Linked DNA regions of Homo sapiens: region 1 is linked to region 2. The links come from fine-mapping of genetic effects on gene expression. A gene starts in region 2. The other region holds a variant in brackets. All regions are shown on one strand. Distances are between the middles of the regions. Region 1 overlaps KIF26A (kinesin family member 26A). Region 2 holds the start of KIF26A (kinesin family member 26A).

What was found. PIP is the estimated chance that this variant, and not a neighbour inherited with it, causes the effect. A credible set is the group of variants that fine-mapping cannot tell apart.
Region 1: its variant is the best candidate, but not a certain one, in a credible set for the expression of KIF26A in testis (GTEx, PIP 0.86).

What each region holds. Positions count from the first base shown.
Region 1 is chr14:104,170,524-104,186,130 of GRCh38, forward strand. KIF26A (kinesin family member 26A) reads left to right here. Exons shown (of 15, transcript NM_015656.2): 6 at 1,200-1,412; 7 at 2,052-2,145; 8 at 2,454-2,716; 9 at 2,807-2,990; 10 at 3,183-3,345; 11 at 3,625-3,787; 12 at 4,459-7,375; 13 at 8,027-8,232; 14 at 8,713-8,863; 15 at 9,086-10,371. The coding sequence ends at 9,267. Among named protein-coding and RNA genes, the nearest start is that of KIF26A-DT, 40 kb to the left of the region's middle. RefSeq lists enhancers at 1,181-1,894, 8,673-9,207. The variant T/C (reference allele first, on the strand shown) is at 7,239.
Region 2 is chr14:104,130,888-104,146,494 of GRCh38, forward strand. KIF26A (kinesin family member 26A) reads left to right here and starts at 7,700. Exons shown (of 15, transcript NM_015656.2): 1 at 7,700-7,877; 2 at 8,156-8,401. The coding sequence starts at 7,836. It overlaps KIF26A-DT (KIF26A divergent transcript), which reads right to left and starts at 7,742. Exons shown (of 3, transcript NR_158217.1): 1 at 6,643-7,742; 2 at 5,980-6,355; 3 at 3,896-4,285. RefSeq lists enhancers at 3,611-4,110, 4,719-5,292, 5,579-6,290, 6,291-7,002 and a silencer at 6,699-6,868.

The sequences.
Region 1 (15,607 bases), 40 kb after region 2:
GAAAAATATTGGCTCTGAAATGAGTCTCGGGTAATTTGATTTACGCTGTAGTGGAGAAATCAGAGATTTCAGCGCAGAGTGGACTGTGGTGTCCTCCAGCAGGAAATGGGGCCTGTCTCTGGCTCTGCGTTGGAGCCCTGGTTCAGGGTGGCCCTCGTGTGCGCAGCCTCTGCCGGGTCAGAGCCGCCGCCTCCTGGCATCGACGCACCAGACCCACCTGTGTGGGGTGTCCCTGCTGTGGATGGGTTTCGGAGTGTTTGCAGTGATTGCTCTGGGCTCCGGCATCCTGGGTCCTGCCCCTCCCCGGCGTCTGCCCCCTCTCAGGGTACTGGGGCTGGTGTCAGGGTCTTCCCGAGTCCGGTGCCTGTATGTGGCCCAGTTTGAGATCTGTGTGTGTGCTTTGGAGACGCCATTGCTTCTGCCCAGCACCAGGGCTGCCTGGTTCCCTGCTGGCTCGGGAGGTCAGTCTGGAAGCCCAACCCACCCTCAGCCTGCCCCCCAGCCTCAGTCTCCCCAAGCCTGCAGTGGGGCCGGTGAGGCCGAGGCGTCAGAATTTGTATCTTCCCCTGGATGGGATCCTTCTTATCTTGCCCGTCCCCGTTTGCATTCGAATGGGCTTCCCCCTGCTTTCTGCTGACTCTAGTCCGGCAGGCCACAGGGTGCCAGGGTTCGGTTCCCTCAGCTGGCCAGGGTCGGAGGCAGCCATGCCCCTGGATGGCTCCCCTGACAGCGCCAGCCCTCTGCGGCTCTCACACCTCTGTGGGGCAGTTCATTCCCTTATCTTGCAAGTGCTCCCCCTCAGCCTGGGGAGCAGCCTGCGAGGGCTGGGCCAGGGGGCCATGCTCCTCCCTCCTGCCCTCTCCTGGACTGAGCTGCTCTGCAGGACCTGAGCGGCTGTCCTCTTCTCACGGAGGCGCCCGGAGCCCGCCGCCCCCTCATTCTCTGTGCCGCACATTCGGTGCTGACAGGCTGTGCACCGGCCTTGCCTCTCCCTGGCCCTCACCTTCTCCCTGCTCTGCTGACCTCATATGGGATCTGCTCTCGCCTGGAGCAGGGGCGCGGTGTCCACATTCCTGCGGTGGGGGTGCCAGTGTGAGGCCTGGCCCGCTGTCCCCACCTGAGCTGGGCCCCTCCTGCCCTGTAATTAGTGGCCGGCTGGGCGGAGGCAGCTTCTCAGGTGCCGCCCACCTCTGCCCCAGGTGAAGGTTATGCTGCGGATCTGGCCCGCACAGGGGGCCCAGCGCTCGGCCGAGGCCATGTCCTTCCTGAAGGTGGACCCTCGGAAGAAGCAGGTGATCCTCTACGATCCCGCCGCCGGTCCCCCAGGCAGCGCAGGCCCCCGGCGAGCCGCCACTGCTGCAGTTCCCAAGATGTTTGCCTTCGATGCCGTCTTCCCCCAGGACTCCGAGCAGGTACGGGCAGGCGGACTGGGCGTCCTCCCGGAGACCCGGAGCCGGGCTGCTGGCTCAGCACATGGGTCCGATCTGCGCCCGCTTCTCCGTGCAGGGCGCAGAGGAAGCGTGAGCGAGGGGCCCGCTGCCTGCGGCGCCTGCCTGCTTACCTCCCTCATCGTCCTGGCCAGCGTCCTTGGGTGTCTCCATCCGCCCCTGCCGAGGCTCTGGGCCAAGTCCACAGGGAAAGGCCTGGTTTTCCGGAGCCCGCCCTCCCGGGAAGCTTTCCGAGCAGCTGTTGGGCTCTGGGCTCTGGGGGCGCCCGGTGCTCCCTGCCCATGCTGAGCCGTGCACCGTGTGGCTGCGTGTGCGTCTCTCTGCGCGTGGTGGTCTGCCCCTGCGCCCGGCGGCTGGACTTCTGGGCTTTGCGGGTGTGTGTCTGCACGTGTCTGGCCAGTCCCTCCTACGTGTGTCCTGGGTCCTGTTCATGTGTGTTCTGTGCTTTCCGTGTGCACATGGGATCTGTCCTTGGTCCCAGGTGTGCAGCCCAATCTCCTTGTGGGTCGACTGCCTGCATGTGCCAGGACAGACCGGCCTCAGGCCCACAGACGTGGCAGAAGGAAGGGGCCACAGCCCTGCCTGATTCTCTTGCCCCCCTAGGCCGAAGTCTGCTCGGGGACCGTGGCCGACGTGCTCCAGTCGGTGGTCAGTGGGGCTGATGGCTGCATTTTTTCCTTTGGCCACATGAGCCTGGGTAAGCACCCTTGCCCCACCCTAGATGGGTCCTGCTGGCCACCCCCTCCCATCCTCATCACGGTGGTTGCTGGCAGCTTCTGATGGGAAAGGAGGCTGGTCCTACACATGGGCCGTGGTGGGCATATGGGGTGAGGGGCTTGTGGAGAGGAAGCTGAACCCCTGCCGAACTGAAAGGCAGAGGGCTTAGGATGGATCCAAAGAGGCCCCTGAGATCTCGGTGCCCCTGGTTGGCCCCCGGGGACGCCAGTAGCCATAAAGGCTCCTTGCGTGGTGTGTGGTGGGGCCTGACGCCTGCGTGGCCCCCAGGCAAGTCGTACACCATGATCGGGAAGGACAGCTCACCCCAGAGCCTGGGCATCGTGCCCTGCGCCATCTCCTGGCTCTTCAGGCTCATCGAGGAGCGCAGGGAGAGGACGGGCACCCGCTTCTCCGTCCGGGTCTCAGCCGTGGAGGTGTGCGGGCGCGACCAGAGCCTGCGGGACCTGCTGGCCGAGGTGGCCCCTGGCAGCCTCCAGGACACCCAGTCTCCGGGAGTGTACCTGCGGGAGGACCCCGTGTGTGGGGCGCAGGTGCGCCTGCCTACTGTCCCACCTTGGGGGAGGGGGGCTGCACTTGGCCCTGAGCCACTGAAGACGCCGCTGCCTCTGCCTTTCCTGCAGCTCCAGAACCAAAGCGAGCTGCGGGCACCCACGGCCGAGAAGGCGGCTTTCTACCTGGATGCGGCCCTGGCGGCCCGCAGCACCAGCCGAGCGGGCTGTGGCGAGGACGCCCGACGCAGCTCCCACATGTTGTTCACGCTGCACGTCTACCAGTACCGCATGGAGAAGTGCGGCCGGGGAGGAAGTAGGTGCCACACCCGCACTCCCGGGCCCCTGTGGGATGCGTGTCAGCAGAGACCCAGGCACAGGGGCCTGTCATCCAGTGGCTCCTGGGGATGTCCCTGGGGTTGTCCCCAGCTTGGGCCTGGGGTGGGGATGTGGAGCAGGATCTGGGGGCCCCTGGCTACACCATCATTTGCTTGCCTTGTGGTTCCAGTGTCCGGAGGCCGCAGCCGCCTGCACCTCATCGACCTGGGCAGCTGTGAGGCGGCGGCTGGCAGGGCCGGGGAGGCTGCTGGGGGTCCCCTGTGTCTGTCCCTGTCGGCCCTGGGCAGCGTCATCTTGGCCCTGGTCAACGGAGCCAAGCATGTGCCGTATCGGTGAGTGTAGGGCCTGGGCAGGTGCCGACCAGGGTGGCCCCTTGGTGACCTGGTAAATCCGTGTCTGGTGTGCCCGGTGCTGCTGTGGCCCCCAGCTCCTCAGGGCTTTGCTCCTCCACCACCTGACAGGCCTCGCTGCCCGTGGGCTGCCTGGGGCCCCACGCTGGGCTGGTGCCGGAGCTGGGTGGGAACCAGACTGATCCCAGGGCTGCCCTTGGCCAGCCTGTCCCCGAAGCTCCCTTCCCAAGGCCTTGGCATCTGAACCGCCTCGACCCGCAGGGACCACAGGCTCACCATGCTGCTGCGTGAATCCCTGGCCACCGCTGGCTGCCGCACCACCATGATCGCCCACGTGTCGGATGCGCCAGCCCAGCACGCAGAGACACTCAGCACCGTGCAGCTCGCCGCCCGCATCCACCGCCTGCGCAGGAAGAAGGCCAAGGTGCTCCCCACCTCCTGCCCGCCCCATCTCGGGGCCGTCTCGGCTCCTGTGTCCACTGCAGGCCTCTGCTGGCCTGGTTGGGGTGGGGGTCAGCAGGTGGCCTGGAGCCTGGGTAGATGTCCTATGTGTTCTGATGTCATGAGGCTATGCCCATGTGGCCCTCCCTGGGGGGTGGGGAGCCCAGCCTGAGGTCCCTGGCTGCAGTGGGCAGAATCGGGGCTTGCTGTATGTGGCTTGTGGTGGCCTCACTCCAGCCTGCTGCCCCCGCACAGGCCCTGGGGTGCTCAGGAGAGCCGCACCACCTCTGCAGGGGCTTCCTAGGGACCCCTCTCTGGGGCTGGAGGGTGGAGTTTGGGGCACTCTGGGGTTACACGGCCCTTGGTGTGAGTCCTGGCCACTGGCCTGGGCACACATGCTTGTCTTTTGAGCTTCCCGTTCCCTCCCAGCGCGGGGTGACACCGTTTTCCTTGTAAAGTTGCTAAGAATGGTCACTTAAGTTCTTCCCCTGAGACTCAGTTCCGCTCCCAGCGTTTGGTGGGACATGGTTGGTGGTGCCTGCTGTAGTTTTCATCACAGTGACCGCAGCATTGGCCCTGTGCTCTGGGGAGGGTCGGGGAAGCGGGGGCGTGTAGGGGAGACTGGGCTCGGCAGCTCCACTTTTCTTCCCCCAGTACGCCTCCAGCTCCTCTGGCGGGGAGAGCTCCTGTGAGGAAGGCCGGGCCCGTCGGCCCCCGCACCTGCGGCCCTTCCACCCACGCACTGTGGCCCTGGACCCCGACCGCACGCCTCCCTGCCTGCCCGGTGACCCCGATTACTCCTCCAGCAGCGAGCAGTCCTGTGACACGGTCATCTACGTGGGGCCCGGTGGGGCGGCGCTGTCAGACCGGGAGCTCACCGACAACGAAGGTCCGCCTGACTTCGTGCCCATCATCCCTGCCCTGAGCCGCCACCGGCCCTCCAAGGGTCCCCGAGACGCAGACCACTTCCGCTGCAGCACCTTCGCGGAGCTGCAGGAGCGGCTGGAATGCATGGACGGCAACGAGGGTCCCTCAGGAGGTCCAGGTGGCACCGACGGAGCTCAGGCCAGCCCCGCCCGAGGGGGCCGGAAGCCCTCGCCACCAGAGGCTGCATCCCCCAGGAAGGCCGTGGGCACCCCGATGGCTGCCAGCACCCCTCGAGGCAGTTCTGGTCCAGACACCCACCAGGGTACCCCTGAGCCCTGCAAGGCCATTGTCTGGGGTGACCAGAGAGAGGACAGCAGCGCTTGGCCTGAGCTGCTGGTCCCGGAAAAGGCTGCAGTGAGTGGAGGCAGGAGGCCACTGCCCAGCCCGGCTCCCCCACCTCCTCAGTTGCTGGAAGCCTGCAGAGCCCCAGAAGAGCCTGGGGGAGGGGGCACTGATGGAGTGGCACGGACCCCTCCCGTGGGCATGAGTGGGCAGGTGGCTGGGTCCCCGATGCTTCCTGGGGCCACCTGCCCCCGCCTGGCTGCTGGCAGTCGCTGTCCGGAGCGGGGCCTGCTCACCACCACAGTGACCCTGCAGCGGCCAGTGGAGCTCAACGGCGAGGACGAGCTGGTGTTCACGGTGGTGGAGGAGCTGTCCCTGGGGGCGCTTGCCGGAGCTGGGCGGCCCACCAGCCTGGCTAGCTTCGACAGTGACTGCTCCCTGCGGGCCCTGGCCTCGGGGTCCCGGCCAGTCAGCATCATCAGCAGCATCAATGATGAGTTTGACGCCTACACCTCTCAGGCCCCTGAGGGGGGGCCCCTGGAGGGGGCAGCCTGGGCCGGCAGCAGTCACGGCTCCTCCATCAGCTCCTGGCTCAGCGAGGTCAGCGTCTGCACTGCCGACAGCCGTGACCCCACGCCGCAGCCCCGCTTCAGCCCCGACTCGCTGGCAGGGCTTGACCCTGGGGGCCCCCCTGCCCTGGATGGTTCCCTGGGGGATGGAAGCTCTGGGTTCCTGGGGCCAGACAGACCTGACAGTCCTGGGCCAACCTGGGGTCCGTGCCCTGGGGAAGTGGCTGCAGTGGCCCCATCCCGACCCGGCAGGGAGCCCCAGGCCGGGCCCTCGCGGTGGGCATCCGCAGCCCAGACCATCCACTCCAGCCTCCCCCGGAAACCGAGGACTGCCTCTGCCACCACCCGTGTGGGCTGTGCTCGCCTGGGCCAGAGCCCACCTGGCCGTGGAGGCCTGTTTGAGGACCCATGGCTGCTCCGGGTAGGGGAGTGTGATACCCAGGCAGCTTCTGCTGGCAGGGCCCCCAGCCCCACACTTGGCTCCCCCCGGCTGCCTGAGGCCCAGGTGATGCTAGCCTGTGCCCAGAGAGTGGTGGACGGGTGTGAGGTGGCAGCCAGGGCGGCCCGCAGGCCAGAGGCTGTGGCTCGGATCCCACCGCTGCGGAGGGGTGCCACCACGCTGGGTGTGACAACGCCAGCTGTGTCCTGGGGAGATGCTCCCACGGAGGTGGTGGCCTGCTCGGGGAGCCTGAAGGCCTCCCCCACCAGCAAGAAGGGTCTGGCTCCCAAGGCGGGCTTCCTCCCGAGGCCCAGTGGGGCGGCCCCCCCGGCCCCACCCACGCGGAAGTCCAGCCTGGAGCAGAGGAGCAGCCCGGCCTCGGCCCCTCCGCATGCTGTGAACCCGGCGCGGGTCGGGGCTGCTGCTGTCCTTCGAGGGGAGGAGGAGCCCAGACCCAGCAGCCGGGCTGACCACTCTGTCCCCAGGGCCACGTCCAGCCTGAAGGCCCGGGCCAGCAAGGTAGAAGCAGCACACCGTCTTGCCGGACACGCGTCTCTGGAGCGGTACGAAGGCCTGGCGCACAGCAGCAGCAAGGGCCGGGAAGCCCCTGGGCGGCCTCCCCGGGCTGTACCCAAGCTGGGTGTGCCACCCTCCAGCCCCACACACGGTCCAGCTCCCGCCTGTAGGAGCGGCGCAGCCAAGGCTGTGGGGGCCCCCAAGCCCCCTGTTGGTGGAGGCAAGGGCCGTGGCCTAGTGGCTGGTGGGTCGCGGGCTCTGGGGCCTTCGGTGAAGCTGTCTACGGCCTCTGTGACGGGCAGGAGCCCTGGCGGCCCTGTGGCCGGTCCCAGAGCAGCCCCACGGGCCGGGCCCAGTGTCGGGGCGAAGGCTGGCCGGGGTACCGTCATGGGCACAAAGCAGGCGCTCCGGGCTGCTCACAGCCGCGTCCATGAGCTGTCAGCCAGTGGAGCCCCGGGCCGAGGTGGCTCCTCGTGGGGCTCGGCGGACTCAGACAGCGGCCATGACAGCGGCGTGAACGTGGGGGAGGAGCGGCCACCCACGGGCCCGGCCCTGCCCTCCCCCTACAGCAAGGTGACCGCCCCACGGCGGCCCCAGCGCTACAGCAGCGGCCATGGCAGCGACAACAGCAGCGTGCTGAGTGGAGAGCTGCCGCCCGCCATGGGCCGCACCGCCCTTTTCCACCACAGCGGTGGCAGCAG[T/C]GGCTATGAGAGCCTGCGGCGCGACAGCGAGGCCACCGGCAGCGCCTCCTCCGCCCCTGACTCCATGAGCGAGAGTGGGGCTGCCTCCCCAGGCGCCCGCACCCGCAGCCTCAAGTCCCCCAAGAAGAGGGCCACAGGTGGGTGCAGAGGTGCACAGCCCTCTACAGTTTACGGGCTTTCTGTGTGTAGATGTGCACAGCCCTCTACAGTTTACAGGGCCAGGAGATGCTGGACAGATGGGCACAGCCTTCAAGGTCCCAGACCCACACAGCCGTGGACGGTTTACAGACTCGCCTGGGGCTTTTTGTGTGTGGAGGTGCACGGCCCTCTGCAGTTTATAAACCCCCTGTACTTGCCCTTCTCTGGCCCCACCCTGCCCTGGGGGGCTGATCCTGGTCTGTGTCTGGGTGAGCACAAGGGCAGCCCTGCACAGGTCGCCAGGCTGGGGCACTGGACTCGGGTTTGGGTCCCGGGCCTCGTGCCTCCCTGGCGAGTGTCGAGCTGCCTGGAAGGCCCCCGCCAGGGCTGCCCCAAGGGACAGAACTGCTCAGGTCATGGCAGGGAAAGTGGGAGGCCCTGGTGGTGGTGGGGGCGCCCTTGAGAGCTGTGGGCCTGGCTTGGGGTCGGCTTCCTCCCTGCCCTGGGCAGAGCGCCAGCCTGAGGATTCCTGGACTGGATCCCGAAGGCCTCCCTGTCAGGACTCGGGCCGGCTCCGCAGCGTCCCCGCAGGGGCTGTGCTTGGGCTGGGCCCCGCCTCTGTTCACCCTGTGCCCGGCTCTCCGTTCCAGGTCTGCAGCGGCGGCGCCTGATTCCCGCCCCACTGCCCGACACCACTGCCCTGGGCCGTAAGCCCAGCCTCCCCGGGCAGTGGGTGGACCTGCCCCCGCCCCTGGCTGGCTCCCTGAAGGAGCCGTTCGAGATCAAGGTGTACGAGATCGATGACGTGGAGCGCCTTCAGCGGCCCCGCCCCACCCCGAGGGAGGCCCCCACCCAGGTAGGGCCTTTGGTGGGCTGGGGTCTATGACCCCTGGTGGGGAGCCTGCCGCGGATGGCAGAGTGAGCCATTTGATGGGCTCGCCAGGCCTCTGGGGGTGTGGCTGGGCAGCCCCTGACCTCACTTTCTGTCCACGTTCCTCCCAGGACGCAAAGGTAGGAGCGGCCCTGCCCAGCCCAAGCCTGTTGCAGCTCCGACACTCCCCTTGGGCAGTGGGTGGGTGGCTGGGGGGTCCTGAGGCCACTGCTGCTGTCCGCTGGAATTCTCCCCTGTCGTGGGGAGGGTGGTCCTAGAGCCGAGCCAGGACCCAGACGGGCATGGGTGGGCTGCCCCAGGTCCGCCCCCTGCCCGCCCTTGGAGCCCCACTGTGTGCCTGCCAAGGCCTGGCAGGTGAAGGGAGGCGGGGGCCACATCAGGGCTGCTTGGGGGTCTCTGGGGAGAGGGTCCCATGCCTGAGCCCCCGCCCGCCCTGCCTCCCAGGGTCTGGCGTGCGTCAGTACAAGGCTGCGGCTGGCGGAGCGCAGGCAGCAGCGGCTGCGGGAGGTGCAGGCCAAGCACAAGCACCTGTGTGAGGAGCTGGCCGAGACCCAGGGCCGGCTGATGCTGGAGCCTGGCCGCTGGCTGGAGCAGTGTGAGTCCCGCCCGCCCACGGACCCAGCCCGGCCCACCGTGTGCCCTGACAGCTGCCCTCCCCTCCCAGAGCCCTGTTGCTCTCCTGTACCTCGTGGTGGGAAGGCTGGAAGGCAGGGTCGGCCGGGCCAAGATGCCTTTCCTGGGGCCTCTGGGGGGCCAGGTGGCTGCCCCCAGCCTCGGGCCTGACGCAGGTGCCCCTCCCCTCTCCTCCCCTCCCCAGTTGAGGTGGACCCGGAGCTGGAGCCCGAGTCGGCCGAGTACCTGGCGGCCCTGGAGCGAGCCACGGCGGCCCTGGAGCAGTGCGTGAACCTGTGCAAGGCGCACGTCATGATGGTCACCTGCTTCGACATCAGCGTTGCAGCCAGTGCTGCCATCCCGGGGCCGCAGGAGGTGGACGTCTGAGGCTGGGCGCCGGACAAGAGGAGGGGGCGTGCAGCGGGCTGGAGGACGGGACGTGGGACGGAGCGAGGATGTGGTGGGGGCTGCGGGGGGAGGATGCGGAGGGGTTTCTGTGCAGGACGGGAGTCTCAGAGAGGAGACGGAGTGTGGGGGAGGGAGGGCCGGCCACGCGGTGGACAGAGCGAGGGTGCCAGGGTGACCAGAAGACCGTCACCACCCGACAGCAACGCAAGTGCCTTTGACCTTGATTTGGACTTTTCTCCCTTTTGCATTTGGTGCTACAGACTTGAGACACCAGCAGAAGTTGTGTTCAGCCCGGCCCCGCTGCGCCTGTCCGGGCCGGGGCTGGCGCCGGTTGTGTTTGTGTCCACCTTGCCTTCTTTGCAGCCAAGCAGTTTTTGTGGAGTGGAGTGGGACTTACCTGCACGCCCCAGGGGTCTTTCAGGATTCAGGATGACTTTTCTTTTACAATGGTTTCCTCTCGGCAGAGCCCGGGTTGTGGGGGATCTGTGTGGGGTTCTCAACGCAGATCCATCCTGGGGTCTCCCGGGCAGGGATGGCTGACCTCGAGTCCCCTCCCTTCCCGAGAACCCGCTCTGTCCCGAGGGCAGCTAACAAGGGCTGAGCCCCAGGTACAGGTTGCCTCTTCCACGGCAGGAATTTTTACCAAAACCACAAGCAAAAAACAAAACAGACCACCACGACCAACAACAAAGATGGGGGGTAGGGTTTTGTAAAGGTTCTGTTAGGTTCATATTTTTATATCATTTTGCCCATAAATGCGGAATTTGCCGTGGGAATTTGAAGACAAATGATCTATGTTTTTATGGTTTTCTAGGGAAGGTGTTCTGGGGGCCGGGCTCTCTCCAGCTGTGGGAGGCCTGCTCCCTCTGGGGGGCACCCTGGGCAGGGTGGGGGGGCCTTGGGAGGCGCTTCTTGCCAAATGCAGACGAGGGGTGAGCCTGCCAGCGTTTGCGACGTCCCCGCACGACAGGCTCATACTTTCTGAGGATCGTGCATAGCATAGGACGTCTGAACCTTTGTACAAATGTGTAGATGACATCTTGCTACAGCTTTTATTTGTGAATTAAAGATGCATCGATGGTTCCCACGGCTGCCGAGTTCACTGGGCGTCGGCAGACTCCTCACGCCCTGGTGTGCCGCCCTCTGAGGGTCCCTGGGGTGACGGGCAGTAAGCGTGGGAAGGACACATCCACGGGGACCCAGGGCTTCGGGTGCTGTGCCAGGGCCTGCCTTGCAGCCCCTGTGGGGCCCACGGTGCCATGAGGGCCCTTCAGAGAAGGTGGAACACGACAGAGCTGGGATTCAAGCCCACGCTTCCTTTCTGATCTGCTTTCTTGTTGACTCTGCTGAGATCTTAGGGTCCCGAGGCTGGGGCAGGGAGCCAGGCTTGGGGGCTGGGCTGGCGGGAAACAGCCCTGTGTAAGCGGCCCCTGGCTCCCTTGTCTCTGGGTTATGCTGTGTGGGGAAGTCGAGGCAGGAGTGATGGCAGCATTTCCCTCCCAGAGTCTTCTTGCCATCCTCTGCCCTCTGCCTACCTTTGCTCATGGGCTCAGGACCCCCGAACCACAAGAGCCCCCTCCCGGGGCAGCCTGGATGGAGGCTCTTCCCTGGAGGACTCAGGCCTGGGTCTGTCTTGACCCCAGTTTGCTGGGCTTTCCCGTGGTCAGAGGCCCCAGACCCTTTGGGGGATCCCCAGCCCTTTGACTGCTGTGAGCTCATGGCCTCACCTGACCTGTACATGTGCCCTCTGGGGCCACCTTAGCTGTTGCTCTGGTTGCCTCCTGGCCTCTTCGGAGTCCTATCTGCTTCTCATTTGGTAGGTCCCCAGCGGAACTAGTTTGCTTCCTTAAGCCTGTTACTCTGTCCCCATGCCAGTACCCCCCGCCTGCCTGGCCTGCGAAGGTTGTGTCTGGGCACCTGCCCCTTTCTGCGGCTTTGCACTGGCTTCCAGCTGCTCCACTCCACCTTCAACCCGAGGTCCTGGCCATGAGGCCCCACCATCCCCCGTGCTGTGATCCCCTGCCCAGAGGCTGGCTGTGCAGCCCCTCCCTCCCTTGGGGACTCCCCCTGTCCCCGGCTAGGTGCCCCTCCCTGGCTCCAGGCGGGGGATGGTGGGGCCCCTCCTTGGTGGAGGCTCCTAGGCCTCTCTGCCATGGCACGTCACACCTTGTGCGGTCTCTGCCTGTCTCCCGGCCTGGCGGGGTCTGAGTCATCACCTTCCCCGATCCTGGGCACAGGGATAGGCCCAGCAGGGCTGAGGAGACACTGGCTGAAGAAGGAATAAAAGAATACGTGAATGACAGCATCCCCTTAAAGAGGCTCCGGCTGCGGTGGAAGCAGGTCCAGGACAGCTCTGAGCCGTCTGCAGAGAGCCTCCCGCCGGCCCTGCACTGTGGTCCCACACAGACACAGTCCTTCGTGTGGCCACAGGGCCCCCCAGGTCAGGCCACAGGGTCACCCGCACCCAGGCCCCTAGTGTCCATCGCAGGTGGCCCTTGGGACTCCAGCCTCTGGGATTGGGGTTGCAGGCCAGCCTGGGAGGCTGCTGGGGCCCCTGATCCTCCAGCCCCAGCCCTGCTTTTGTTGGAGGCCAGCGCTGCGTCCCAGCAGAAACTCAGACTAATGTGGAGGGCAGGGTTGTTCCCGAGAAGCCGAGGGCCACGCATGCCGGCTCTGTGCTGGGTTTGGAGAACTTGGCGAGGGGGTCGGGTCCGGGTGGGGTGTGATGGAGCTTGGGGTGTGGAGGGGTGATCCTCTCAGGACCCTGCTCTCAGGAGAGCCTGAGAAGCCCACCAGGCCTGTGTCCTGGAAACCTGGTGCAGCTGGCTGTGACCCCTGACCTGCACAGAGGCACTGGCCAGGCACTCTGTCCATGGGATCCAGGACAGTGCTGGGGTCTGAGTGGGGTTGGGTGGGTCAGGGTACCTCATTCTCAGGGACCGGGGTGATGCTGGTCCCAGGAGGGAGGCTGGGGAGCTGCCCTAGAGCCCAGACCACTGCGGGGTGCCGGCTCTTGCTCCCTTCTTGCCCTGTACCTGCTCACCTGCAGGGGATGGGTGGGTGCTGAGGCGTGTCTGGGTGGGTCCCTTTCTTTCATAGAGCACACCCTGCCCCCTCCCCATCCCTCTGTCATTGGAGGGGTCCAGAGCCTGCTTCTTGCTGGGGAGCCTGGTCCTCCCTCCCTGGACCTGGGTCCTCCCTGCCTGGACCCCGGTCCTCGCTGCCTGGACCCCGGTCCTCCCTGCCTGGACCCCCGTCCTCCCTGTCTGGACCCCGGTCCTCCTGCCTGCCGGGCTGGCGTGGCTGGGGCCTTGGGGATGGTGGCCTTTGGGCAGGCCAGGCCGGGCCCATTTCCCACAGTTCAGGCCTGGCTCTCAGAGGGCAGTGCCTGTTTTACAGGACGTGGAATCCACTGTCTTGGGGCCAGCCCAGGAGCTGGGGCGGCCTTTCATCTGGGACATCAAAGCCCTCAGCCCTGTCATTAGGGGCTGGAAAGCTGGCTGGGGAGCGGCCCAAGTAGGAGTCACCCATTTTATGGATGGGAAAGCGGCAGCCGCCCCGGACCCAGCTCTTTGACTGAAACTGAAGCTAAGGCAGCGGCACCAATGCAGCCTGCAGGGAGCCTCCACCTCCTGCTTCCGGGACATTTGGGGAAACTGAGGCCCTGAGAGGGCAAAGGAGCCTCCACCTCCTGCTTCCGGGACACTTGGGGAAACTGAGGCCCTGAGAGGGCAAGGGAGCCTCTGCCTCCTGCTTCCGGGACATTTGGGGAAACTGCGGCCCTGAGAGGGCAAGGGCTGCTTGAGCCTCCAGCAGGTGTTCCTTGAGGATTAGGGGGGCGGATTTGGAGTGTGCAGGGGCAGGATGGGAGGGGCTCACAGGGGAGGGTCAGGGTCAGCTGAGGTGGGGAGAAATGGCAGCCTACGGGGAGCCACGCAGCTGCTGATGGTGGATGGCCAGGGCTGAGGCGGGTTTGGGGTTAGGGGAGTGGGCGCAGGAAAGGATCTTGCTGGGCTGTGCCGGGCACTGGCAAGGTCCTCCCAGGTGGTGTCTCTTGTAGCCTCTGAGGCTGGCCTGGCACCTGGCCAGCCTGCCCCTGCCATGGAGTGAGGTGCCCACCTGACTCACCCAGTAAGTCCAGGCCTGCCCTGACGGCCCTGCCCACACCAGCCCTAGCACGGGAGGCCACGTTGTGGGGTGGGGTGACCAGGGGCAGGGGGTCATGAGGTGGCTAAGAGGAGGCCAGAGCTGGGTGGGCTGGGCAGGCCAGTGGGACAGGAGCTGAGCTACATGGCCTGGGGGGCCCGCAGAGCCGCTCCACAGTCCGCCCTGCTCGCAGAGTGGCGGAGGGTCCGTGAGCCACGGTCTGATTTCCCGGGGCCCCGCCAGGCTGTCTGCCCCGCTCCTTGCTGGAGGGCGGGGGGGTTCCCTATTCCAAGGACTGGGATCCGCAGGAGGCGGAAGAGCAGAGGCCCCTCATCCCTGGACTCTAGGGTCCTCCTATCTGGCTGGGCGTGGTAGGCGTCTGGGAAACTGACTGCAGCTTCAGTAGCAGGCGCTGGGCTCAGAGGTTCCCTGTGAGCCTCCTCCTGTTCACCATCCCAGGGACCACAAGTGCAACCCATAGCGATGGCCATGGGGATGTGACACTAGGGTGGGATGGGAACAGTGGCAGCAATGACAGTGGGAGTGCTGGCAGAGGAGCGTTGGTGGCAGGGAGGCTGGTGGCTGTGGCTGGGGTGGGGCCATTGGCAGAGCAGCAGCAGTACTAGGGATGGTGGCAGCAGAGATCCAACCAGCCTGGCTGATGGGGCAGTGTCGCCCCTCCTGGCCTGCTGGTCGCTTGGCTGCCCTCGGGCCTGTGTGTTCCTCATGAGGCCAGCAGGACGTGGCCCGAGCCTGGTCCTTTCCTGACACCCTTTTCCCTGGGAACTGGGAGTGAGGTCACAGCAGCCTCCACAGGGTTCTCACTGGGTCCTGAGCCCCAGCAGCTGAAGGGGGGAATGGGGGCCGCCTGGAGTGCCCAAGATGGGGGCCCTAAATAACCAGCAGCGGGGTCATTGCCGGATGATGCCACGTTCTCCCGGGGTCCCGGGCCGGGAGGGGAGGCTCTGCCAGTCCCCCTGTGTCTCGAGCCTCAGTCTCCCTCTCTGCCGAGGTTCCTGTTCACGTGTGCGGTCATGTGTGTGAACATGGCTCAGCACCTGTCCTCATCTGCTTCCCCCCACCAGGGCCGCCCCCGGCTACCGTGAAATGGACGGTGCTCTGGGCTCTCCAGAAGGGGACCAGTCTCGGCCCCCACACCCTGGTTCCCTGGGAATCCGAGGAGGCCCCTGCCCTGTGACTGCGCCCCACGCCCCAGGGCCTGTCTGCAGCCCTGGCGGGAGGGTGATTCCTGGGGTGGAGGCCCCCTGTCTGCTCCTCTCCTGGGAACGAGCCCCGCCCCACGGTGCCTGGGGGCTGGGATGTGCTCCCAGCAAACAGGAAGCCCAGGGTGACTTCTCCCTCCTGACATTGTGTTTACCAAGGCGGGATCCAGGCCCGTTTCCACACAGGAAACCCAGGAGGCTGGAAGAGGCTGGGAAGGAATTCCCTGGGCCAGCTAAGACGCTCCGGCTTCCTGTAGGACAGGCAGGCAGTGTGGGGTGGGGGTGGAGTGGGGTGGGGGTAGAGGTGTGGGGTGGGTGGGTTTGGGGTTGAGGGATGGGTAGAGGTGGGAGTGGGGGTAGAGGTGTGGGGTGGGTGTGGGTGGTATGAATAGAGAGATGGGGTGGGGATAGGAGTGGGGTGGGGGTAGGGGTGGGTTGGGGGAGTAAAGGGATGGGGTGGGGTGAGGGTAGGTGTGGGGGGATGGGGTTGGGGTACGGATGGGGTGGGAGGGTAGAGAGATGGGGTGGGGTGAGGGTGGGTGTGGGGAGATTGGGTGGGGGTAGAGATGGGGGTAGATGGATGGGGTGGGGTAGAGGGATGGGGTGGGTGTGGAGGATGGGGTGGGGTGGGGTGGGTGTTGGGGGTACAGGTGAAGGGATGGGGTGGGGTGGGGTGGGTGTGGAGGATGGGGTTGGGTGGGGTGGGTGTTGGGGGTACAGGTGATAAGCAGCTAGGAGTCCAGGGAGGCTCCTGGGGCTCCGGGTGGCCGTGGTGGAACCCCCTTCAGAGCTCTGGATTTGGTGGCAGCCTTGAACGTCCCTGTGTCCCCATGTTGTCACCGGGACCTGCAGGCCCAGGCCCAGGTCTGTCTCCCTTCAGACAGGCCAAGGCTGAGGGGCACAGTGTCTCCCTCTGCAGAGTCCCTGTGGCCGGCACAGGGGACGCGTGA
Region 2 (15,607 bases):
GAACAGGAGGGGAGAAGGAAGTCAGGGGTATGGGGTTAGATGCGCCAAGGCCTGTTAGGTGGAGTGGGGGCACTGGTGAGGCCACAGGGCTGGCCTCATGGGCCTTGAAGGTGAGCCCTGGGCTCCATGCCCTGGTGCACCCTTCACTGTCTCTGGGCCTCAGTTTTCCTATCTGCATAAAAGGGGAACTGGACCAAGAGAGTGCTTTAATCGTCCTCTGGCCACAAACTGTGGCCAAAGTGTGCCATCTGCTGGCCACAAGTGACAGTGTCCCCATTCGAGATGTGGCTGAGGGAGGTAGAGACTCTGGAGTCCTGCCAGGGCTTGGGTATTGTGGGCATGGAGGGAGGTTCAGGCAGCCAGATCCCGTGTTGGAGGGGAGAGGGGAGCCAAGCACGGCGGGAAAAGATCCAGGCTGCGGGCCTTGCAGGCTGGGCTTGGGGCCAGGGCTCTCCACCCTGGTGGGGAGGGCACTGGCTGGAAGGTTTGGAGGCCACTTGGTGCTACACACGTCCTCCCAGGAAACAGAGAAGGTGCAGGTAGGTCAGGAATGCTTCCACCTGGGCCCAGGAAGAGTCCTCAGGCTGGGGCAGCTGGGCGCCGCACACTGGCTTGCAGGTCCCATGAGGTCAACCTGGCTGACTTAGGGCTGGGCTGTGGGAACCCGGGCAAGGCATCCTGAGGGTGGGGTCTGGCACTGCAGCCTCGAGGTGCAGTGTGGTGGGGGGTGAGAGGAGCCAGGGTGGGGCCAGTGAGGTGGCCAGAGCAGAATATAGGGTGGGGGCATGGCAGGGCCGGGAAAGGCTGGGATAGGAAGGACAGGAGCCCCTCTGCAGGGGGAATGCAGCAGGACCTGGTGGCACAGAGAACAAGCCTGGGGTTCATGCATTCCTTTATTTCTTCCACAAATGTGAATGAGCTTCAGTGCTGTGCCAGGTGCTCAACCAAACATTTCCTGCCCTCATGGAGCTGATATTCTAAAGGGGATGAAGGACAATAAACTAGACAAGTAAGAAACATCTAAGTCAGCTCCTGGTAAGTGCTAAGGAGGGAGAGGAAACATGGGCAAAGCTGCAGGATGCAGGAAGGGCCTGACATTTTAGGTAAGGTGGGCAGGGAACACTTTGCTTAGAAAAGGCCTGGTGGCTCACGCCTATAACCCCAGCACTTTGGGAAGCTGAGGCAGGAGGATTGCTTGAGCCCAGGAGTTCGAGACCAGCCTGGGCAACATAGTGAAACCTGGTCTCTACAAAAAAATCAATAAGTTATCTCAGAGTGGAGGTGCGTGCCTGTGGTCCCAGCTACTCAGGAGGCTGAGGTGGGAGGATCGGTTGAGTCTGGGAGGTCGAGGCTGCAGTGAGCTGTGATTGCGCCACTGCACTCCAGCCTGGGCGAAAGAGCAAGACCCTATTTCAAAAAAGAAAAGACCTGGAGAAAGTCAGGCATGTGGATGTCTGGGGGAAGAGCCCCCTGGCAGTGGGAACAGTGGAGCAAACGCTCAAATGGGGGTGACTGCACGTTTGGGAACAGCGAGGAGGCCCTTGGGGCTGGAGCAGAATGCGTAGGGGGTGCAGAGCGGGAGGAGACGGGTCAGTCAGCCAGGGCCGAGAAGTGGAAGGAGCCCACCGCCTTCTTAAAGGCTCACCTGGCGGCTGTGGTGAAGCAGGCATGGCATTGCAGAACCCCCTCCAGGGGCTGACATTCCATTAGGGTGGTAGGGACAGGAGATCCTGATGGATGGGCTGCGGGGGCCGTGAGCAAGCAGGAGTCAAGGACGACTCCAGGATGACTGAATTGAAAGAGTGAATGAGCGAGGCCGGGCGTGGTGGCTCACGCCTGTAATCCCAGCACTTTGGGAGGCCAAGGCGGGCGGATCACGAGGTCAGGAGATTGAGACCATCCTGGCTGACACGGTGAAACTCCATGTCTACTAAAAATACAAAAAATTAGCCGGGCATGGTGGTGGGCGCCTGTAATCCCAGCTACTCAGGAGGCTGAGGCAGGAGAACGGCGTGAACCCAGGAGGCGGAGGTTGCAGTGAGCTGAGATTGTGCCACTGCACTCCAGCCTGGGAGACAGAGCAAGACTCCAAAAAAAAAAAAAAAAAAAGAAAGAGTGAATGAGCAAATGAGTGATGGAGAGCTTGACACCCCAGGACACTCCCCCATCCCCCTTCCCCTCGCCTGCAGAAGCCCCCTCCTGGTGCTGGCCAAGGTGCTGAAGCCGCGTCCTAGGCTGTCCCTCTGTGCTGGACCTGGGGCTCCTCTGGCACAGGGTGAGGTCTGTGGAGCCATCAGCTGTTGACCAGCGAGCATCCCCAGTCTCTCCCTACTCAGCAAACCCTTAGCCAGGATCCGTGGGATCCTGGCTGGGCTCCCAGACCTCAGTTCAGAGCTGACCACCCTTGTTCGTGCTCCATCCTGGCTCCGAGGCCAGGGCTGGGGTCCCTTGCTCTGCAGCTGGGCCCTGGGGGAAGAGGGAAGGAGGCTGTAAACACAGGGCTTAGGAGCACAGACTCCTGGGGCGAAACCTGGAGACTGACCTCCCCACTCTGGGCCTCATTTCCTCATCTGTAAAACGGCGATCATACAATACCCGTGCCTAGCACTGTTGGGCAGATTAAATGAGTGGATGTTACCAAGTGCGTAAGACAGAGCCTGGTCCGGAGAACAGGTGGGTGTCAGCTAAACCCCATGGCCGGCCACCCTCCCCCAAGCACTCAGACACCCTCTGAAGAACTGGTGCAGTGACCACCTGAAGCCTGCCCTTGGTGCTGAGGACGAGGGGCCTCGCTTTACTAGGAGGCCCTGCCCTGAGCCGGGGTCGGCCTCCCTTGTGGCTGCCTTCCTGAGGCACCCTCTCTCCTGCACCCCAGACATGGTCCTGGCCTCCAGGAGGGATAGGTGAGCAGGGAGCCCAGGGAGCTGGTCAATCCTGGGAACGTGTGGGGAGTGTCCCGAGGCCTCCTTGAGGAGAAGGGTTTTTTCCATCCCCCTCAACTCTTGGAGAGGATGAGGGTCTGTCTGATGCCAGGTGTGATCCTAGGGCCATGGGCCTTGTATAATTTTATTGTGGACAGTTTAGGCCCTGTAACCCTTCCTTATCTCTTTATTAAATGCTAAACAGGATGGTTAAAAACCCCACAAAAGTCAAAACCGTGCAGAGGGGTGTAAAATGGAAGTGAAACCTCTCCCGAACCCCACTCCTACTCTCTCTCCAGAGGCAACAATCGTTACCTGTTGCTTGTGTCTGTCCCAGGAAAGGTCCCCGCCTTCATAAGCATAAACCTTCTCTGCAAAGGCCAACGGGGCTGTGCCGCACACTGCGTGCCCGTCCCTGTCCCGGGTCCACCTGCCGTCCATCCACTGTCGCCAAGGATGAAGAGACGATTGGCCATTCCTACCCAGCCGGTTTCCACTACTAAAGACACCTCTGGCAAGTGTTCAGTTTCCGTGGGAGCGTGTCTGGGGTGCCTCCCAGCTCTTGCCCTGCACACTGAAGGGACGTGGATGGGGGTGGGGTGGGCTCTGGAGGGACTGGTCTGCCTCCGGGTACCGTCCACCTCGTCACACATGAAGACACGAAGGTGCGGAGAGGTGGGGGGCGGGGCTCTTGACCAGCACCAGCAGGCTGGGGAGAGATGGCGGTATGGAGGGCCCTGGGCTCCAAGCACCCAGGGAAGGAATCTGAGCACTCAAGCCCCATGTCCTCCTCCCTCCCTGAAACATTGCTGCGTGTGGTCTGAATGGAAGCCGAGTTCCGGCAATTAATCCCATCAGAGGGGCCCTGCTGAATGGTAGGAGGTTTTTTTCTGTTTTGCTCCCTTGGTCTAGATTTCCCTGGGGACAGCTCTGACCAGCCGCCGCGTGCCTGGTAAATTAAATGTTAAAAAAAATCCCCACAATGACTTTAATCAATCCACTGACATGGCGGGTGGCCTCCCAGAAGCCCTTGGTCCGCTGAAGGGAGCCCCCCCCTCCCCGCCCCAGGCTCAGGGTCTTGGATGAGACAGGATGGGGGAAGAGGACAGTCTTCCCCAGTCCCCTTCCTGTGGGGGAGGGAGGAGGGTGGGTGGTCCCCAGAGTGTCCTCCTGGAGAGGGACAGAGAGAAAGGGGGGACTCTGGCCCCCTTTATAACTTGCCCTGATCCCAGGCCAGGAGTGATGGTGGACGCAGGGAGGGGGCAGCTCTTCCCCGCCTCTCTCCTGACCAGAAGCCTGGGTGAGTACAGAGCAGGTGGTCACGATCGGCCATGTGGTCAGCAAATCCAGCGTTTATGGTGATTCTGTTGGAGACAAATGGCAGTGCTGGGCTCTGGGTTGGAGTCAGGTTGAGACAACGTCCTTCAGCCTCCACTGGGGGGAGTCAGGGGAAGGACCGGGGGAGCAGGACGGCCTTGCGGCGCCGCCGGAGCAGTGGGGTTGTGGGGCGTGGCCATGGTCCTTCCCAGGGGAGAGTAGAGGAGTGCAGGGGGCAGAGAGCACAGAAAGTCTAGCCCAGCCTTAGCACCCCAGCCAGGCCATAGGTGCGCGCTGGCGCCGCTGAAAACGTTCTCCTTCCCTCGCCTGTCCACCTTCCAGGTCCTGCTCAAGGCGCCTAATATCCCCTGGGCAGGGTCCCTGACACTTCCTTAACTCCCAAAGACCTTCCGCGTGGGCCTAGCGCATTTAGGCGAACCTCTCTGCCTGCTTGATCCTCTCCCTTCCTCCCTCAAGCCAGGCATCTCACCCACTTGCGCGCGAGGCTGGGGCAGCCCACAGGAGGAGCGCGGGACCCGGGCTTGAGTTTGCACCCAGGCAGAGCGCCCACCCCCGCCCCTAGCTTCGGACCCTGAAAGTAAAGTCGTCGTGCCCGGCAGCCAGCCCGAATCTTCCAGCCCTCAGGGAGTCGGGGTCGGGGCAGGGAAGGCCACGGGTGGCGGCACAATCGGGATCCTGGAGTGGAGGCGCAGACTGCGGGTCCCGCTGCGCACGCTCCGTGGTCCGGTTGGGGTGGGCCTTGGAGGTCCATAGGCCAAGGTTGAACGGGGGCTCTGGAGCGTGGGCGGGGTGGAGTGCACAGGTCACTGGGCTCTGAGCGTTTCCATGGGCCAGGACCCCAACGCGCCGTGTCCTCAGGACAGATTGGAGGGGGAAGGGGCTGCGATTATGCCCCAGTCGGAAGGGTTTTACAGCAGCCGCGCTGCCCTCTCCCTGCCGGATACCCGGCAGTAGACACCGACGTCTGGGGGCTAGCGAGGCAGGTGGGCGCGGACCGCGACCCGATTCTGGCTTCCAACCTCCGCCCAGTGGCGCGCGGGGCCGTCGCCCCACACCTCCAGTCCGCGTGGCTGGTGTCTGGCTCGCCGCCGGGGCGGAAGGGGCGCTGTCGGCGCAGGCGGGCGGGGCCGGAGCGCGGGGGCGCGCGGCGCGGAGCGAGCGCAGGGCTCGGGGGCGCGGGGCGCGGAGGACCGGGGGCTTGACGGGCGGCCCTGCGCGGTGCGGGGCGCGGCGGCGGCGGGCGCGCGGCCAGTGAACGCGCGGGCGGGGCGGCGGTGGCGGGAGGCACTAGGGGCCGCTCCCCGCGCTTCCCTCTTCCATGGCGCTGCCCCAGCCGCCCGAGCCGCCCCGCGGCGCGCCCCGCAAGGCTCCCAGCCTGCTGGAGATGGGGGCGCTCTGCCTGGACTCGGAGATCATCCTGGGCTTCACCAGCCACCTCCTGCGGCGACGAGGCAAGGTGAGGGCTGTCGGGAGGGGGGCGGGCGGCGTAGGCGCCGTCCCGTTACTTTGCCGCGCGGCTCGCGCGGCCGGGGGTGCTGCGCCGGGAAGGAGACGGCAGGTCCGGAGCCGCGTCCCGCAGCCCGGGCTGGGACTCGCTGCCGCACTTTCCCCCATTAGCGTTGTCCAAGTCTCCCTCTGCCTTCAAGGCTGTGTCCCAACCGGACCCACCCGGAGGCTGTGGCTAGGGCGGAGAGCGCAGCGCAGGGATTCTCGGGCTCACCTTGCGCCTTGCTAGGATGGGCGAAGTAGGGGGTCGGGGCCCCTGACTGATCGTGAGCCCCCGAGGTGACTCCAGCCTTGTGCACCCCGTGTTCTGCGGATATGGGATGTGAGCTTGTGCTTCCCGAAGCGCCGCGGCGGTAGAAGCGCTGAAGTTGCGGGTGTGGCTGGCCAGGGGCGCAGGACCGGTGCTCCCGACCGCTGCGTGCTTCTGTGTTGCGTGTGTGGGTGGGGGGACGGGATATAGAGAGTGTGTGTCCCGGAGCAGTGGAGCGGCGGGAGGCGGTGCTGTCTGCCGGCAGTGCGGGGTGGGGTTTGGGTGTTGTCCTCAGTACCCAGATCCAGATGTGGGCTGACGCCCGTTTTCATTCTCCAGGCTGCGAAGAGACGGGTAGGGGAAGCGCTTCCGGCCCCCCAGGCTGGGTGGAAAGCGACTGCAGGCTTACGGATCTCAGAAAGAGTGGAGAGCCCCTGCCACTTTATTCCATACCCCCTTGCGTTTTCGAACCCCTAAGGTCATCAACGACCCGGAAAGCCGGGAGGGGATCACCCACCCCACTTTCTGGGGAGTGCGTGCGTGGGCGGGGAGGCTTATCCAAGTAAAAGGGGGTGGGCAAAACGGAAAGGGTCACTTTGACGTACTGAGTCTCTGCGAAGGCCTCACCGTATGTGCCGGCAGCCGCGTGTCCTGGTCTCCGCCGGGTCACGACCTTCGGAGTTTCCGAGTGCGCCTCAGGCCTGGGACGCGCGGCGCTGTCTCCCCAGTCTCGGAGCCGTGTGCGCAGCGGCCGGCAGGGGGCACTCGCGTCACGGGGAGCCCGCCCGCCGCGCCCGCCTGGCTTGACCCGGGCTTTGGGGCTGACCCGGAGCCTGGCCCGGAGCTGCCTGCGGCCGCGGATGCCGGCGACATTTGGGGCCCGGCTAGGCACAGAGCAACTGGTCGCCAGGGAAGGGCGGGGGGGCGGCCTCCCAGCCGGAGACAAACAAGCAATTAATTCCGGAGCTGAGTTCCCATCTGCCAGGCCTGCTGACAACAGGTCCGGCGCACGCCCGCAGGACCTCCCGCTTCCCGGGCGGCACGGCGCGCACACCCACTTGCGGGCACACGCGCGGCTGTAAAGACACGTGCCGTTCGCAGACGCGCCGAGGCACAGATACGCCGGCGCGGTCGCTGCCCGGCTCGAGGCGCACACCGCGGCGACACTAACCCACGCGCGACAGTTAGACCTAAAGTGGCCCGCGACACGCAGAGTACGCTGGGCTTGCTGGAAAGGCGCCTGGGAGTCTCGGGGCCGGGGTCCCGCCCCTTCCTCGGCCCACCTCGCCGTGGGCCTTGGGCAAGAGCGTCCCCTCCGCAGCCTCAGTTTTCCCGCCTGTAGAGGGAGGGGCGTCGGCGCCTCCTGGGAGACGCGCAGCCCTGGTGTCCCGGGAGAGGGGCGGGAGGCGCATGCGCGCGCGCAACTAGATCCTCGCCGCCGCCCCCAGCGCCCCTCCCCGGGGCAGGGACTCACCTAACAGGTTGGGGTCCTTGGAGTGCGCGGGGCCGCGTGGGGAAGCGGGGACCCTACCCCCCCCACGCGCCGCCCAGCACTGGGCAAGGGCGGGGCACTCTCTGGGCTCCCGCCCCTCGCCGCCCGCCCCGGGAGCCCGAGCCCCGCCCTTCCCCGGCCCCGCCCTCGCCTCCCGAGCGCGCCCACCGGAGCCACCGCGCTCCTCGCGACACTCGCAGGCTCTGCGAACTTCCGAGCGGCTGGGCCGGGCCATGGGGGCGCCTCGGGGCCGGATCACGTAGCCGCGGCGCCCCCGGAGAGCCAGCGTGGCCGGGAGCGCCTGCCGGGCTCTTCCCGCGCCCCGGCCATGGTCGGCCGCGGCGTCCCTCTGTGCGCTGCGCAGCCCGCGGTACGCGCGGCCCGGCCTGGAGAGGGAGGCGGGCGGCGGGGGCCCGGGACGGCGAAGATACTCGCGGTGTGCGCTGGATCCCTGGGGGCCGGGCCTCCTGCTGAGGGTAGCGGACCCGCAGGCGGGACCTCCGGGGATGGAGGGAGTGGGTGAGCGCCAGGGTCGTGCCCAGGGCTCCTAACTTTGGCAAGAGCGTCACGCTGGGGCAGGGCGCGCAGGGGTCTGGATCCGACGGACGTCCCAGGCTCACTGTCCGCTTCCGCCCCCACACCCTGCAGGTGGCCGAGGGCGGCCCGGCCCGCGAGCCGCCGCCGCTGCTGGAGGTGTCCCCCCGAAAGAGGCTACCCGCCGGGCCCGACCAGGACCCATGCGGCAGCCGCCCTGCTCCCGAAGGCGCCGGGGCCGGCCCAGAGCAGGGCCACTCGGCCGGCGGAGGCGGCTGGTGCCGCCACTGCCACACGAAGCTGGTGGAGCTCAAGCGACAGGCGTGGAAGCTGGTCAGCGGGCCCGGGACCACCCTCCGGGTAAGTGACACTTCCTTAGGCCGACCCCTCCGAGCAGGGCCACGCCGAACTTGGGTAGAACTTGGGGCTTGGAGGGAAGCAGGGTTCCACTCCTTCCCTGCTGCTGTTTCCACAAAGAGTTATCAGCCAGGACTTCCCTTCTGCGGGCCTCAGTTTCCCGGTCTGTAACACCATGTGTGAGCTAGGGAGCTCAGCCCGAGGGGCCCTGCTGCCTCGGATGGGAGGGGCCTGGGCTGGCGTTCCTCCCCCAGCCCAGATGTCCCACAGCTGGAACGCAGGTTTGTGTGGGAGGAGGAGGGGAGAGAGCGGATGGCAGGGACTCCACCCAGGGCGGGACAGCTCCAGCCCTACCAGCAGGGAGAGGTTATTTGGTGCATTGTGGCCCTTGGGGCACCTGGGCCCCCAGCCAGGTGTCTGGAAATTACATACCTGGGGCCGGGGGGCCTGGCAGGTGAAAGGGTGGGCCACAGCAGCTGGGGGGTCCCTGCCTACTCCTCTCCCAGCCTCAAGGATAAGAACTGTTGTCCCATACCTCCTGGGATAGACTGAGGCAGTGGCCGCCCATGGGGAATTGAGTCGGGGCCCTCTGGGTTCCCCAGGCTCCAGCCCCAGGGGCAGGTGCTTGCAGGGGAGGGGTTCTCCTGGATTTCCAGCCAGTGGGCCTGCCGGCTTTGGAGGGAGCAGGGACCATTGTTCCAGGAACAATGCATGCTGGAAGTTTGCAAAGGCTGGGGGCGGGTGGGGGTCTCCAGAGGAAGCCCGCTGCCGGGCCTTCAGCCTTTATGAAAGAGTTCCTGGGAAGTCCGCATAATCCCCATTGAATCTAAATATAGTTCTCTAAGGGCTGTGGGGGTTGGAGTGAGCTGAGACCCTGACTGCCCTGTCTGGGGCAGGGCAGGGTGGGGCAGGGTACCAGTCTGGTTTCTGTCCTGGGCACCGTCTCCGGGCTCTCTGGAGTCTCGGCGAGGGATAGGATTGCTGTAGCCTCTCTCTGGCTCAGGCCAGGCGCCTGTGGGCCTGTCCTGGGGTGGGGCTGGACCCGCCCTGTCCTCTGCTCTGGACAGGCTGCAGCCTTGGCCATACTCTGTGCCCCAGTGGCCTGTATCTAGTTTAAAAGGTAGCAGGAGACCCTTGAGGGCCCCCTGGAGAGGGCCAGCCAGAGCTAAAGGCCCATCTTGCTGCCCCATTAGGGGAAACACGCCAGAGACAGGAGGGGCATTAAGATTGAGCTGGTCTCCTCATTCTTGGAGTGGGCTTGGACTGCTGATGCTGCCTGGCCCTGGGGCCATGGTCCTGGCATGGACTCGTGGAGGGGAGGGGGCTCCTGGTCACGGGCAGGCCAGGGGTCCTAGTGGAGAGGGCTGCAGGTGATACTAGTCCCTGGTGGATTCTAGGTTCCTCATCTAGGGGGGTGTCTTGGTCTCTTCTGGCAGACAGGTCTTCAGGGGAGCCCCAGACCACCCATCTCCAGCCTCCCCTGAGCTTGGCCTTTGACACTGGAAACTCCTCTTGAGTGCCAGCTGGGGGCTCCCCCTTCCCTAGCTGGCGCTGGCACTCAGCACACCGGGGTCCCGGGCTGGTCTCAGCCAGGGCTTTGTTCTGCTCTGGGCCCCCTTCTTCTGCTTTGTGGTCTCCTCTGTCACCTGGGGCCTGTTGTGAAGTGCTGTCCCACCTGCAGGGTGCTGTGCCCCCGGGAGAGAAGACCCCATCCTCCACTGTCTCTCCACAGGGCATGGGGGGCTGCACCTGCCATCCTGGGGCCTTACGGGTGTCATTGTCCTGTCCCCTGTGCGGGCCTGGGCTGTCCCCAGAGTCCCAGCAAAATTGCAGCCTGCAGCCCTGGCCTGGCCCGCTGGGCCCAGATGTGTGGACATGGCTGCTTCTGTGTTTGGGTTGGGAGGGAAATCTCTGGGGTGGCCAGGGAGACCCCAGTGTGCTCCCCGGAGTCTGGTGCACTGTCCAGTGGGCCCTGGCCTCTGCTCTGTAAGGCCAACGTGGCAAGGGGTATTTAGGGTTGGTGTTCTAGGATTTCCCCAGGGGCCCGTTTCGTATTTTTTAGGGGAGAGATGAGCTTCCTTGAGGATAGCTGTTTACAGGGAACTTCACAATCATCCATCTGTCTCATGCTTGGATCTTCAGAAGCCCAGAGAAGTGGAGAGACTTGCTGGGACCCGGCCTGGCTATTAGAGGCCCTCGCCTCCGGGCTTCCTGCCTGTCTCCGTTGTAGAGGGAGGCGTAGAGGGTCGGGGCCCAGCCTGCCAGGGTCTCCCTGCCTGTCTCCGTTGTAGAGGGAGGCGTAGAGGGTCGGGGCCCAGCCTGCCAGGGTCTCCCTGCCTGTCTCCGTTGTAGAGGGAGGCGTAGAGGGTCGGGGCCCAGCCTGCCGGGGTCTCCCTGCCTGTCTCCGTTGTAGAGGGAGGCGTAGAGGGTCGGGCCCAGCCTGCCAGGGTCTCCTTGAATGTGTTGCTCTTTAGCAACACCCGATGCCTGCATGGTCCTGCCTATGCTCATCCCCTGCTGGGCCCTTGCCCACCCTCCTGCCAGGAGGCAGCTCCCCTGAGCAGGTTCCCGAGAGTTCTTGGCCACTGTTTCCTGCTCTGCGACATGGGACCGTCTTTGTGCCCATTGCATAGGTACGTAGAGCAGTGCCCGGAAGGGATGCACTCTCACCTTGGCAGCTGCTGCTGCTGTTTGCTGAGTTAGGGACTCCGAGTCCCTGGGGCTGTTGGAGCCCAGGTTCCCGGCCTACCTCTCCCTTGCTGTGTGCTCTTGTCTGCCTGAGCCTGTCTCAGTTCCCTTGTCTGGGCAGTGAGGGTGACCATGGTCCCCTATCTGGGGACCTCATCCCTGTGGCATGGATAAGACTGTGCCCTCCCCACCTTTCTGAGCTCTGGTGCCCCGTCTGGGGCCGTAGGGGAGGGGGACATTGTCTTCCTGCCCCTGTTGGAGCCCCAGGGGATTGTCTTTCCTGATCTGAGAAGGGTGCTTGGCCCTGGGTGTGGAGGGGAAGCCCCATGATGGGACTCTGGCCGTGGCTCCTGCTCCTCACTGTGTCCCCACACTGTGCCCTCTGCTCTCACCAGGGTCCTCAGGCCTTGTCTCCGGGCTGACTACTTCAGGACCCCCATGGCCTGGAGCGGCCCCCTGTGGCCTGGCCTCCTGTGGCCTCCAGGGACCTTTCTCTAATGGGCTGCTCTGTCTGCCCTGCCATAGATGCTGTCCTCATCCCAAGACCCCCTGGCCTCCCTGGGCTGGAGGCCCCTCAGTGTCCCTGCTCTGGCCTCAGGGGCCCCTTCTCAGGTGCCCCCAACTCTGAGATGTCCCTGTGGGAGGTTGCAGCCTGGTGCCTCCCATTCAGCAGGCAAAGCTGGGGCCTCCCTCTTTCTCCACATCTAAGGCCCCCCTCGCTTCCCCATGCTCACCCACCACCGCAAACTGTTGTGGCAGACCTCTTCCCTCTCCCTGACCCCAGTCCTGGTTTCCCCCACAAGCAGGAGCTCTGCCAGGTCAGGCATGGGGTCCGGGTCACCTGGAGGTGTTTGTTGAATGACTGAATGACCAGGCTTTTCCTCCCACACCCCACTTGCTGGTGGTCACCCCCGGGACTGCTGGGGCTGGATTCCGGCTATCCGCCCCTCAAAATGACAGTTCCCATGGAGGATGACCATCCCCCTCCCCCACAAAGGATGGTTCCCTGCTTCAAGGAGAGGGTCCCTGCTTGGGGATCCATTCCAGCTGCTGACAGACACGTCATGTGAGGTGTTGACTCCTCCTGAGACCCCGTGACATTTGAAGCGTCAGTACCGGTGCTGAATTGATTATCGCCCCCGATGGGGAAAATGATCAATTCTCATTTAGCTCCCGTGCATCTCTTGCTTATCCAGGCAGGGGCCTCATCCTTATGCCCCCAAGAGCTCCAGAACCACTGTTGGTGCCGCCTGCTGGTGCCACGCAGCTGAACAGTGAGGGAAGCTGCCCATCGAGGCTGTGGCTCTGGACTCTCCTCCCGGCGAAGCTCCGGGTGGCCCCTGTGTACAGGGAATCAGTTGTCATGGTCTGAGGCTGGGAGCCCTCCTACCGCTCTGTGTGGCTTGGCGAGTCCTGTTTCTCCTTGGACGCTGCTCATGGGCTTCTGTTTGCTTCTCCTGTTGCCTCTCTGGTTTGACTGGAGGTGACTCCTGCCAGCTTTTCGTTCCTCCTGCCAGCTTTTCGTTCCTCCTCTGTCACTTGTCCGAGGAAGCCCTCTTAGCCCCCTGGATGGATGGGGGCATCTCTGTCTCCACAGCCCCCAGGCCTGTGATTTGGGGGTCCCAGGTCTGTTGCCCCCAAATAGGCAATGGTCCTGGGAGGGTAGGAGCTGCGCCCGAGTGGTCCCATGACGGATGCTCGCCACTTGTGGTCAGAGCCCCTGGGCCCCCAGACTTGGGGCTGCCACCTTCCCTCGCTGCTTGGAGCCTGGCCCGGCTTCCACTGCTGCCAGGGCCACCTTTGTGCCTGGCAGTGGCACCCGCCTCGGGGATCCGCAGGGTGGGGTGCCTGGCATCAGCAGCATTCCCAGCTGAGCCCAGGTGTCACAGGCTTTGGTGGCAGCCTGGGGAGGTGTGAGGGGGCACGGCTCCCTGGCTGGCAGGCGGGGCACTGGCTAACTCTACCAGGAAGGGCTCTGCTCGGGAGGCCGTGGAGCTCGGAGCTCCCAGTTACTGTTGGGGAGGGAGCCTGGGGAAGGGCCGGGAGGGAGGAAGCCTGGGTGGGCCCAGCCTCGCTGTGCAGCCTCTGTGGGACCTGGGCTTTCTCTTCCCTGGACAGGCGGTGCTGCCTCCGGGATTCCCTGTGGTTCAGCATGTGATGGGTGGAGGGCACGTCCTTGTGCTCGTCTTGTCTCTCTTGCTTCTTTGGGGTCCCAGGGGTTGAGGATGGGCATTTGGGGGAGGACTTGAGCTTGAGGGATGTGAACCATTGTCCTCTGAACACCAGCCAGAAGCAGAGATGGAGCCCTAGCGGCTTCCGGGGTACAAGCTTTATGTCGGGGCAGGGACGTGCTCTGGGGGAGTCTGGCCGTGGTCACATGTGGGCTGGGTGGGGATGGGATTGTGGCCGCTGGCCTCACTGCCTCTCTGCTGCCAGGTAGAGGACAGGGAAGGAGGGGGACTGCAGGCTACCCCCAAACCTTCAGCTGCTCAGAGTCCTGCTGGAGGGGCTTGTGAGGGTTTGGAGTGGGCTAAGGGAATGGGACTGGGGCCTTCCCAAAGCTCCCTTAAGTACCCTGGAAGGATCTCTTATTTGGGAATCAGAAGAGCTGGTTTTTCCCTTAAGTAACAAAGAAAGTCTAGTTCTTCTCTTCCTTTGCCTGCTAGGAAGCTCACAGCAAATGTGCTGCTCAGCTCTGGGCCGCGTGGGACTTTTCTTCTGCTCTAATGGGAACGGGTCATTCTTTTTGTTCCAGTTATGACTGACTGTAGTTGCATGGTTTTGTTTTTAGCTTATATTTTGTAGTTCCTGCGAGCCACCGCACAATCTTTGTGCAAGACAGTGTGGGCTATGAGTAAATAAGTAAGAGTAAAAGTGGACTGACCGTGCCTTGGTCGTGTCTGCTTCAGCCTGTTCATCTGGTCCATGGAAGCGGAGCTTGTGCTGTTGGGGGGAGTGGCTGTCAGCTGGGCTTTCCCTGGTTCCTGGTGGCAGCCAGGCTGGGTGGTCTGGCCTCTGGAAGTCCTGGCCCAGGAATGGGCAGCCCTCGTCAGCCTCTGAGCTCTGCACCCACGCTGCTCCCTTCCTGCTGGGGTGAACACTGTGCTTGGTGAGACTTTCTCAGGGCAGGCTCTGGAGGCTGCCACCCCCACCACGGTGTGTCCTTGTCCTGCGGGGCCTCAGTTTCCCGCCTGTGAACAGTCCTTGGGCTGCGTCGTCACTGTTGCTTCTTCCGGCGCTCAGGGTCACTTTTCCTTCCAGTGTCACAGTGTCTCCGTTTCGTTCACGGGCGTGCCCTGGCCATAGCTGCCTCTCCAGGATGGAGTCTTCTAGGCAGGACCCGTGGGCTGGGGTGGCCCGAGGCCCTCCGCAGGGCTGCACTGTGCTCCGTGGAGACTCCCCAGCCCACCTGTCCCCGACCCCAGCAGCATCCCAGGCCTCAGCTGTAGGGCTGGGGATGGGTGGGTGGCCCAGCCCGGTGCCCGGGGCTGATGGCAATGTGTAGTCCCGCCTGGCCCGGCGCCAGGTCACTCAGCTCAGCGCGCTGCATTGGACCTGGGATGGTCGTGCTTGCGTCCCTCCTGCGCTGGCCTCTGACCCCATGTGATGGGTGTTGCCTGAGCTTTGGCCTCTGTTTCTGGCGGAGGTGCCGCATGCTGGCCCTTGCCTGGTGCCCTCAGGGAGCTCTTCCTAAATGTCCTGTCCCCATCTTCCCTCCCCAGCTCATAGCTTCGGTTCACGGCTGTAGCCCGGCTCTGCCCTCAAAACCCTCACCCCTGCCGCCAACGTGGCCTCCACAAAGCCCTCGTCCTCCAGCCGCTTGACCTAGCCTGTGGGGGCTGCCCTGAGCAAGGCTGAAAGGCCCCTCCTGCTCTCGTCCCTAGGGCCCCCTCTCCCCGACCCCCGCAAATTTGCCTTCACCAGGAAGAAGTGTCAGGCGACCTGGCTCCAAGCTTTATCTTCCACGCCTGGCTCTCCATCTTTTTCTCCTGAGGGTGGGACTGGGGCCACCCCATCAGCCCAGAGGCTCCCCAAGATGGGGCCAGCAGGGCAGTGGCAAGGGTGCGTCTCTGGGCCCTGGAGTCACCCAGGTCTGAGTTGGAACCCCAGCTCTGCGACCCTGGTGGTGTGGCCTGAGGCAGGTGTCTCAGTCTCTCTGAGCCTCAGTCTATAAAGGGGTCACAGACTCCTGGTAGCCAGTGAACAGGGTGGTTGTTTTTGGGGGTGGGTGGCCCCTAGGGCTGTGCAGGGAGGCCTGGGGTACCTGGCAGGGGAGTGTCTGGGTGTTGGGATGGTGCCAGGGGCCCAGCTTGCCTGCTGGGTGATTGGGAGAAGGCTCGTCCTGGTCCTGCCCAACTTCCTGGCTGCATTTGGTGTTGTGGGAGGGGCTGTAGCTTGTGGGGCATGGGGTCCCTGCCCTCTATAGATGCCCTAGAGGCCTGTGGGGAGAGGGTCCTGAGGGCGGAGGCCAGGAGGTCTGAACTCATCCCTGTGCCTACCGAGTGGTGGGAAGAGCATGGA